Linked DNA regions of Homo sapiens. The protein of the gene in region 1 interacts with the protein of each later gene in a pairwise test. Each region holds a gene or a part of one and is shown in the gene's direction. Other genes may lie near its edges.

Region 1 (5,599 bases):
ACATCCAAACTAGGGAGTAGGTCTTACATTAAAAAAATAGTTCCAGGCCCTCCCTCTTCTTGGTTCTGCCCATGGCTTTTCATAGGACATGTGTACAGTAGCCAGTGGTATCCTGTGTACCATCCATAAATTGACTAGAGGCTCAGAAGGTCGAGATAAAGTTGTCTTAATATAATAGGTCTTGGTTCCCTAAGATAAGAGTAATTCATCCTGGAGGCAAGACAGATGGCAAATGCTTGTTCTACCTCCTGTTTTCAGTAGCCCCTTCAGTAAATGGTCATGGAAATAGCAATACACAGGCTGCCGCCTCTGACTGGAACACATTCACCACTTCTCCCCTTGAATGCGTGCACACCAGCCACAGTCCTACCACCATTTCCAGGTTTGGCTCAGTATCAGGCTTTCTGACCACCCCAGGCAGAAGAGATCCTCGCTCTCACAGCAGCATTCTTGCACCTGCCCCAGGACCATGTAAGGCTGTCGGCCAGGTCTTCCTCCCCTTTCCTTGTGGGTGTTGTAGTCACCCTGGAGCAGGCTTTTGACTTCATTTTTCTGGCATACCTAGCACTAAGCAGAGTGCCTGGCCCGCCATAGGTGTTCCATTAATGTGTATTGAAAGAATGCATTTTTATTAACAAATTTGTGAAGGAAGTGATGGCTGCACCTGCTGTTCTCACCACCTTCTGTGCTTAGTCACGCCTTCTTTTAGCTGTTTGGAAAGCATCTAAACAGTGGGAAGCCTTGGTTTTACAGCTGAACTGAGGAAGGACAAAACAACAACTAAATGATTTAAAACTAAATCGGCCACCACTCCTTCCCGTTTTTATGTCATCATACAATCATTAGTGACCATTTTCTATAAGGGTGCTACGTCCTAAAGTGTATTTATTTTTCAAGGTACTGTCACCGTCAGATTACCCCAGTATGGTCCTGGGACATTTGTACATCCTTGTTACCACAACCATGAAGGAAGCAGGGTTAAATGTATTATGTTATATGACAATATCAAAAATTTCTTTTTTTTATTATAGTAGGAATTGGTGTTTGAGAGCTGGTCCCTGCAATAACATAATCTTTATATTATGGTTGGTAGCATTCAAAGATCTTTCAAATACCAGTAAGAATAACCAATCATTATTTTAATACTGAAAAAGAAAACCATAATTTTTCTGTCTTAAAGTGACAGTTATATATTTTATGTCACTTTCCTCCTGAATGTTTCCTCATCCTTCTTTTATCTTCAAATATCTGTTAGCCCAAATAGAGAACTAAGGAATTTACCCCTGGTGTGGACAGGAAAATATTAGGCCAGTAGTTGGATATGGTGTCTATTTTATAGGAGTTCAAATTCTATGTTGCATTGGATTTTATTGCAAAGCAGTTACTTACTCCCCTCCCCCAGGTTGCCTTTATTTAAAAATGAGTGAAATATAAATATAGAAGCCTTTATCATTCTATTGAATAATAACACAAAATGAAAAAAACATAATGATGCAGAAAGTTGAAATAATTTTTTTTTCTGTAATATACAGGTAACCTTACTCCTAACAGTATTTGGTGAAGATGATCAGTCTCAGGATGTTCTGAGATTGCATCAGGATATTAATGATTATAACCGGAGATTCTCAGGGCAACCCAGATCTGTAAGTAATGCTAAAGCATGTTCAAAGTTAGAGGAAGACACATTTCTTCTCTTTTGTAAAGTGAGGTTTACCAACAAGTATTCTTTGACTATGAGAAATCTTGGCCAGGCACAGTAGCTAACGCCTATAATCCTAGCACTTTGGGAGGCCAAGGCAGGTGGATCACTTGAGCCCAGGAGTTTGAGACCAGCCTTGGAAACATGATGAAACCCCATCTCTAGAAAAAACACCAAAAAATTGGACAAGAGTGTTGGCACATGCCTGTAGTCCCTGCTTCTTGGGAGGCTGAAATGGGAGGATCACCTGAGCCCAGGAGGTTGAGGCTATAGTGAGCCATGATCGCACTATTGCACTCCCACCTGGGTGGCAGTGAGACCCTTCCTCAAAAAACAAGAAAAGAAAAAGAAAAAAAAAAATCTCATTATATGTGTTGGGTCAAGTTTTTACCTTCATTGCTGCCAATCACTACATTACACCTTTCCCAAGGACTACAATTTTCTTTCTTAAAAAACAAACAGCATTATAAAAGTTTTTATGAAAGAGAAACTAGCAGAAAAGCAATAGAAAAAATTAGAGGGAAATAGAAAATTATTTACTTCTTTGTGATACTAAAACACCATTTGTCTTTTGAGAAAAGTTACAACTGAAAACTTTAAGTTTCACAGTTGTGGTTTATTCTATTTGCCCTAGCCCTGTTTGAAATGTTCCCTTAAAAAAATTCCAGGTTGGCTGGGGGCGGTGGCTCACGCCTGTAATCCCAGCACTTTGGGAGGCCGAGGCGGGTGGATCACCTGAGGTCAGCAGTTCGAGACCAGCCTGGCCAACACGGTGAAACCCTGTCTCTACTAAAAATACAAAAATTAGCTGAGTGTGGTGGCAGGCACCTGTAATCCTAGCTACTCGGGAGACTGAGGCTGGAGAATCACTTGTACCCGGCAGACAGAGGTTGCAGTGAGCCGATATCACGCCACTGCACTCCAGCCTGGGCGACGAGAGTGAAACTCCAAAAAATTCCAGGTTTAGGCCGGGCACAGTGGCTCACACCTGTAATCCCAGCACTTTGGGAGGCTGAGGTGGGCAGATCATTTGAGTTCGGGAGTTTGAGACCAGCCTGATCAACATGGTGAAACCCTGTCTCTACTAAAAATACAAAAATTAGCTGGGTATGGTGGTTTGTGCCTGTAGTCCCAGCTACTTGGAAGGCTGAGGCAGGAGAATCACTTGAACCCGGGAGGCAGAGGTTGCAGTGAGCTGAGATCACGCCACTGCACTCCAGCCTGGGCAACAGAGTGAGACTCCCGTCTCAGAAAAAAAAAAGTTTGGAGGGATATGTTTATATGTCATCTTAGCTATTTAAAAGCAGAACACTGTACAGATAACCTTTCTTCCCCTTACCCTAGAAGTATTTGATAAATCAAAAACTAGCACATTTTACTGACTCATTCTTGTTTTATCAAAATCTAACACATTCTTAGAAATGTAAAACTGAATAAGTACTTCAAAAACTAGAATGTACTAAATCCAAATTTATATGGACAGCCCAGACCTCTCCTCTGAGCTCCAGACTCTGTAGATCCAACTGCTTCGCTTCCATTTCAGCGTGGGTGCTCCACAGACATCCCTAACTTAACACGTGGAGTATTGAGCTGATTCCCTCCTTGACATAGTCTGTTCTTTTCTCAGTTTTGATTTCCTCCTCTTCTTCATTCCTCTCATCTGGTCTATAAGTAATCCTACCTTTTCTTTCTATTTTTGGGGTGTCCTATTATTTTTACTGCATCAACATATTCTTGCTGGCTGGGCACAGTGGCTCATGCCTGTAATCCTGGCACTTTGGGAGACTGAGGCAGGCAGATCACTTGAGCTCAGGAGTTTGAGACCAGCCTGGGCAACTTAGCAAGACTTTGTCTCTACCAAAAAATACAAAAATTAGTCAGGCACGGTGGTGTGCACCTGTAGTTTCAGCTACTTGGGAGGCTGAGGTGGGAGGACTGCTTGAGCCCGGGAGGCAGAGGTTGCAATGAGCCAGGATCACATCACTGCACTCCAGCCTGGGTGATCGAGTGAGACCTTGTCTCAAAAAGAACAAAAATGTCTTGGCTGTGTTGTTGTTGTTGTTTGAGACAGATTCTCACTCTTTCCCAGGCTGGAGTGCAGTGGTGTGATCACGGCTCACTGCAGCCTCAACCTTCCAAGCTCAGGCCATCCTGCCGCCTCAGCCTCCCAAGTAGCTGGGACCACAGGGGTGCATCACCACACCCGGCTAATTTTTTATAGAGACTGGGTTTTGCCATGCTGCCCAGGCTGGCCTTGAACTCCTGGGCTCAAGCAATCCACCCCCTCAGACTGCCAAAGTGCTGGGATTACAGGTGTGAGCCACCGTGCCCAGCCTGTGTCCACTTCTTTCAATCACTGTAGACATTGTGCTGGTCCAGCCCTGTCATCTCTGCTCACGGCAACCACAGTGGCCTCCTCACTTCTACTTTTTTCCCTGCCACAGCAGCCTGATACATGTTTTCTAGACATAAATGAGACCATGATGCTCTTGTGTTTGAAAACTTCTATTTTGTTTGTTTGTTTTGAGACAGGCTCGAGTGCGGTGGTGCAATCTTGGCTCGCTGCAACGTTTGCCTCCTGGGCTCAAGCCTTCCTCCCACCTCAGCCTCCCAAGTAGATGGGACTACAGGTGCATGCCACCACAACCCGGCTAATTTTTATATTTTTTGTAGAGATGGGGTTTCGCCATGTTGGCCAGGCTGTTCTCAAACTCCTGGGCTCAAGTGGTCCTCCCACCTCGGCCTCCCAAAGTGGTGGGATTACAGGCATGAGCCACCACTTGTGGCCCAATGTCTTTGAATGTTCCAACTCCTTACTGTGGCTTACAGGGCGCCACATGATCTGGTCCTCCCTCCCTCTCCAAATTTCTGTTAACCGCCTCAATCACCACCCTGCAGCCACCCTGCTCTATGCTCTCAGCACACACACAAACTCCTTCCACCTTAAGGCTGTCACACCTGACACTTCCTCTGCATGGAATGCTTGTCCTTCTGCTCTTATGGTGATTTCCCAGTCTTTAAATGACAACTATCTTAAGTAGACCCTCCTTGGAGAAGTTTTCCCTGCTCTGTGGCGCCCTCTGTACCTTTCCTTCATGGCGTTTATCATAGACAGCACTCAATTCTTGTTCATTATCTTTCTCTCAGTAAACTAAAAGCTTCATAAGGGTAAGGACCATTTTTATTTATTTACCACTGCCGAGTTTCCAACAGTGCCAAATTTGGTGCCTTAATGTGTGTTGAATAAATGAATTACTGTTAAGATAAGAATTGATACTGCTGCTCCCAGCCGAATATATTAAGCTATTCAGATGCTTCAGTGTTAAACAGACATGTGCTCATGCTCCATTGTTCCTTGTTCTGTGAGGTCGTGTACATTTCAGGGCATAGATTTCAACTGTTATGGATGATAATGGGTAGATTTACCCATTTTTCATTGAGCAGGAAAAAAAAAAACTTAATCCAATCATGTTGTCCTCCATAATTATTTGGGAGCCTCTTCTGCAATTTTGACCCAGCAATTTTTTTTTTACATATCCTCCGGTGACATCAGTAGGATGGTTCTTTAAAAATGCAACCTGTTTCAAATTTAAGAGCTACCACTAAACTTTAATAAAGTCATTTAACATTTTTCTTTTCATTTCTTTTCTTTTTGAGACAGAGTCTCGCTCTGTCGCCCAGGCCAGAATGCAATGGCGCGATCTCGGCTCACTGCAACCTCTGTCTCCTGGGTTCAAACAGTTCTCATATTTCAGCCACCTGACTAGCTGGGATTACAGGTGTGTGCCACCATGCCCAGCTAATTTTTGTATTTTTAGTAGAGACGGGGTTTCACCCTGCTTTCCAGGCTGATCTCAAAACTCTTGGCTTCAAGCGATCTGCTCACCTTGGCCTCCCAAA
Region 2 (3,500 bases), on another chromosome or scaffold:
TGGTGTTTAAACAACACACACTTATTATGTCATAGTTTCTTTATGTTTTTCATTTGTTTTTCTCTGTTTTCAAAATTTTTTCTATTTTTGGTTTTCAGACATTGGACCATAATGAATCTATATGTGATTTTCTGTTTTCATTTTGCTTGGAGTTTTCTGAGGTTCTTTAATCTGAAATTTTTTTGTCTTTTGCCATATTTTTAACATTTTTAGCCATTATTTCTTCAGATTTTGTTTTCCGATTCTTTGCTCTCCATATAGGACTCCAGTTGTACATATCTTACACATTTTGATGTAGACCCACAGATTCGTTGTTTTTTTCAACTATTTTTTCTGCCTTTTTAAGATTGGATCATTTGATACATTTTCATATTCACTCACTCTTTCCTTTCTCATCTCCATTCTACAGTTACGTCCATTTGGTGAATTTTTAAATTTTACGTATTATATTTTTCAGTTCTACAATTTCCTTTTGCTTCTTTCATTTTTTCTTTGCTGAGATTTCCTATCATTTTTCATTTTGAGAACATTTTCCATCATGTCATTGAGCATAGTTATAATGGTTGTTTTTAATTCTTTGCTAATACAGCAACATCTGGGTCGTCTCAGGATTGTTCTTTTTGAGAATTAAACACAATATTCCTGGTTTTTGTTGTTTGGTTTTGGTTTTGGTTTTTTAGTTTGACTTGATTTGTTTTTTGGTATATTGAGAGTTCCGGATTGTATCCTGGACATTTATGAATGTTATTTTATGAAGACTGTGGATTCTGTTATATTTCTCCAAAGAGTATTGACTTGTTTTGTTCTAATAGGCAGTTAATTTGGTTATTCTCAAGCTACAAAGTCTGTCTCTTGGGTGGCATCTTAAATCTCACTCGGTTTCTTTTATCCTTAACTAGGCCGCTTGGAGTCTGCCTTGTGTGTGTTGTTATGGAATCTGCTAGAGATTTGGGCAGTGTTTATATATAGAAGTTGGGACTCTCACTCTCTAGTGCTCTGGTTTCTCTCCCTTGTTTTCTGGCAGCTATTGTTACCCCAAACTGTTCTCTAGTTCTTCAGGCCAAAAAGACTGAGTTTTCTGTGGGAGTTCAGCCTTTACTGCTCTCAGATTATGAGCCACAAAAATGGGAAACTCAACTCATGCCATTCCTTTCTCCCAACTGTTGACTTCCCCTCTAGAATCTGACTTTGTGGTGTCTTTAGGTAGTTGTTGTTTTGTTTAGAGTTAGTACTTTTTATTTGTGGAGGGCTGATCTGATAGAAGCTTTATTAGCCATATCAGGATCAGAATCAAGAAGCACTTTGAAAGTTGTACAGCTAGTCCTCCATATTCAACCCATATTCATGGGTTCATCATCCATGGATTCAACCAGCTGCAGATCATAAATATTCAGGGAAAAAATTGCTCCTGTACTGAACATGTACAGATTTTTTTCTTGTCATTATTCGCTAAACAATGTAGTATAACAACTATTTAGCATTTACATTGTATTAGCTAGTGTAGTGTAAGCTAGAGATAATTTCTTTCTTTTTTTTTTTTTAAACGGAGTCTCACTCATTGTATTAGCTCGTGTAGTGTAAGCTAGAGATAATTTCTTTCTTTTTTTTTTAGACGGAGTCTCGCTCTGTAGCCCAGGCTGGAGTGTAGTGGTGCAATCTCAGCTCACTGCAACCTCCACCTCCCAGGTTCCAGCGATTTTCCTGCCTCAGCCTCCTGAGTAGCTGGGATTACAGGCACCTGCCACCATGTCTGGCTAATTTTTGTATTTTTAATAGAGATGCGGTTTCACCATGTCGGCCAGGATGGTCTTGAACTCCTGACTTCAGGTGATCTGCCTGTCTCTGCCTCCCAAAGTGCTGGGATTACAGGTGTCAGCCACCACGCCTGGCCAAGCTAGGGATAATTTCAAGTATACAGGAGGATATACATAGGCGATGTGCAAATACTGTGCCATTTTATATCAGAGACTTGAGTTTCTGTGGATTTTGGAATCCATGGGAGGTCCTAGAACCAATCCCCACAAATAGCGAGGCACCAGCTACATTTTAGAAGTTATTTGTAGTGTAGGCTGAGCGCGGTCGCTCACACCTGTAATCCCAGCATCTGGGAGGCCGAGGTGGGTGTACTACCTGAGGTCAGGAGTTCAAGACCAGCCTGGCCAACATGGCGAAACCTCGTCTCTACTAAAAATACAAAAATTAGCTGGGCGTGGTTGTGCACACCTGTAATCCCAGCTACTCGGGAGGCTCAGGCAGAATTGCTCCAACCCAGGAGGCAGGGGTTGCAGTAAGCCAAGATTGCACCACTGCACTCCAACCTGGGCGACAGAGTGAAACTCCATCTCAAAAAAAAAAAAAAAAGTTATTTGTAGTGTAATGGGATGGTAAAATTTTGCTATTATAATTAACCAATTAAATTGGGGGTTATGGCTCATACCTGCTGTAATCCCAGCTACTCCAGAAGCCGAGGCAAGAGGATCATTTGAGGCCAAGAGTTTGAGACCAGCCTGAGCAATGTAGTGAGACCCCATCTCTAAAAAATTGTTTTAAATTAGGCATGGTGATACCCACCTGTAGTCTCAGCTGCTCAGGAGACTGAAGTGGGAGGGTCTGAATCAGAAGTTTGAGGCTGTGGTGAGCTATGATTGTGCCACTGCACTCAGCCTGGGTGACAGAGCAAGATGCTGTCTCTTGCTCAATAATGATAATAATGATAAAACCAGTTAAATCCAAGCCATATTTGAAGATTTCTTTTCTTTTGTTTCTTTTTTTTTTTTTTGAAATGGGGTCTTGCTCTGTTGCCCAGGCTGGAGTACGGTGGTGTGAGCACGGCTCACTGCAGCCTCGACCTCCTGGGCTCAAGTGATCCTCTTGCCTCAGCCTCCCAAGGAACTGGGACCACAGGTGTACCACCATGCCTAGCTAACATTTTTTTGTAGAGACAGGGTCTTGCCATGTTGCCCAGGCTGGCCTGGGACTCCGGGGCTCAAGCAGTCCTCCCACCTTGGCTTCCCAAATTGCTAGGATTACAGATGTGAGCCACTGCACCCAGCTGAGGATTTCCTTTAAGGTGATTTTTCTAGAATCATTTTTGCTCTGTTCTTTTGTTCTCTCTTAAATAGTTAGCCATTTAGAAATATTTGATGATTTATTACAGTTTCTATTAAAAGAGATTCTTTAGCCTGATAGGCAGTAGCTTTCTTAGCTGGTCGTCATCACCTGTGGCTTTTTGAACAGATGAGGCCTTGGCTCAGACTCAGTGCCCAGAGTGACACTCGAAGACAGAATTTTGAAATAATCTGTTATATGTCAAAATGTAAATAATGATTGGGATTATGAATAATTATTTAAAAGTTATCTTCTGTGTTTTCATATTTTCTACCATGAGCATGTATTGATTTTTGTTGCTTTTCCCCTGATTACAAAATATGTGCCCAGGCCAGGAACAGTGGCTCATGCCTGTAATCCTAAGGTGGGAGGATCACTTGAGCCAGAGTTTG

Evidence for each region.
Region 2: the proteins of RNF170 (region 1) and PSMA6 interact in binary tests that used the Homo sapiens proteins (3 or more experiments, as listed by UniProt).

What each region holds. Positions count from the first base shown.
Region 1 is NC_000008.11:42,857,789-42,863,387, reverse strand, and holds part of RNF170 (E3 ubiquitin-protein ligase RNF170), read left to right. Parts: intron 1-1,532; coding exon 1,533-1,643; intron 1,644-5,599. UniProt on the Homo sapiens protein: E3 ubiquitin-protein ligase that plays an essential role in stimulus-induced inositol 1,4,5-trisphosphate receptor type 1 (ITPR1) ubiquitination and degradation via the endoplasmic reticulum-associated degradation (ERAD) pathway.
Region 2 is NC_000014.9:35,302,382-35,305,881, forward strand, and holds part of PSMA6 (proteasome subunit alpha type-6), read left to right. Parts: intron 1-3,500. UniProt on the Homo sapiens protein: Component of the 20S core proteasome complex involved in the proteolytic degradation of most intracellular proteins. This complex plays numerous essential roles within the cell by associating with different regulatory particles.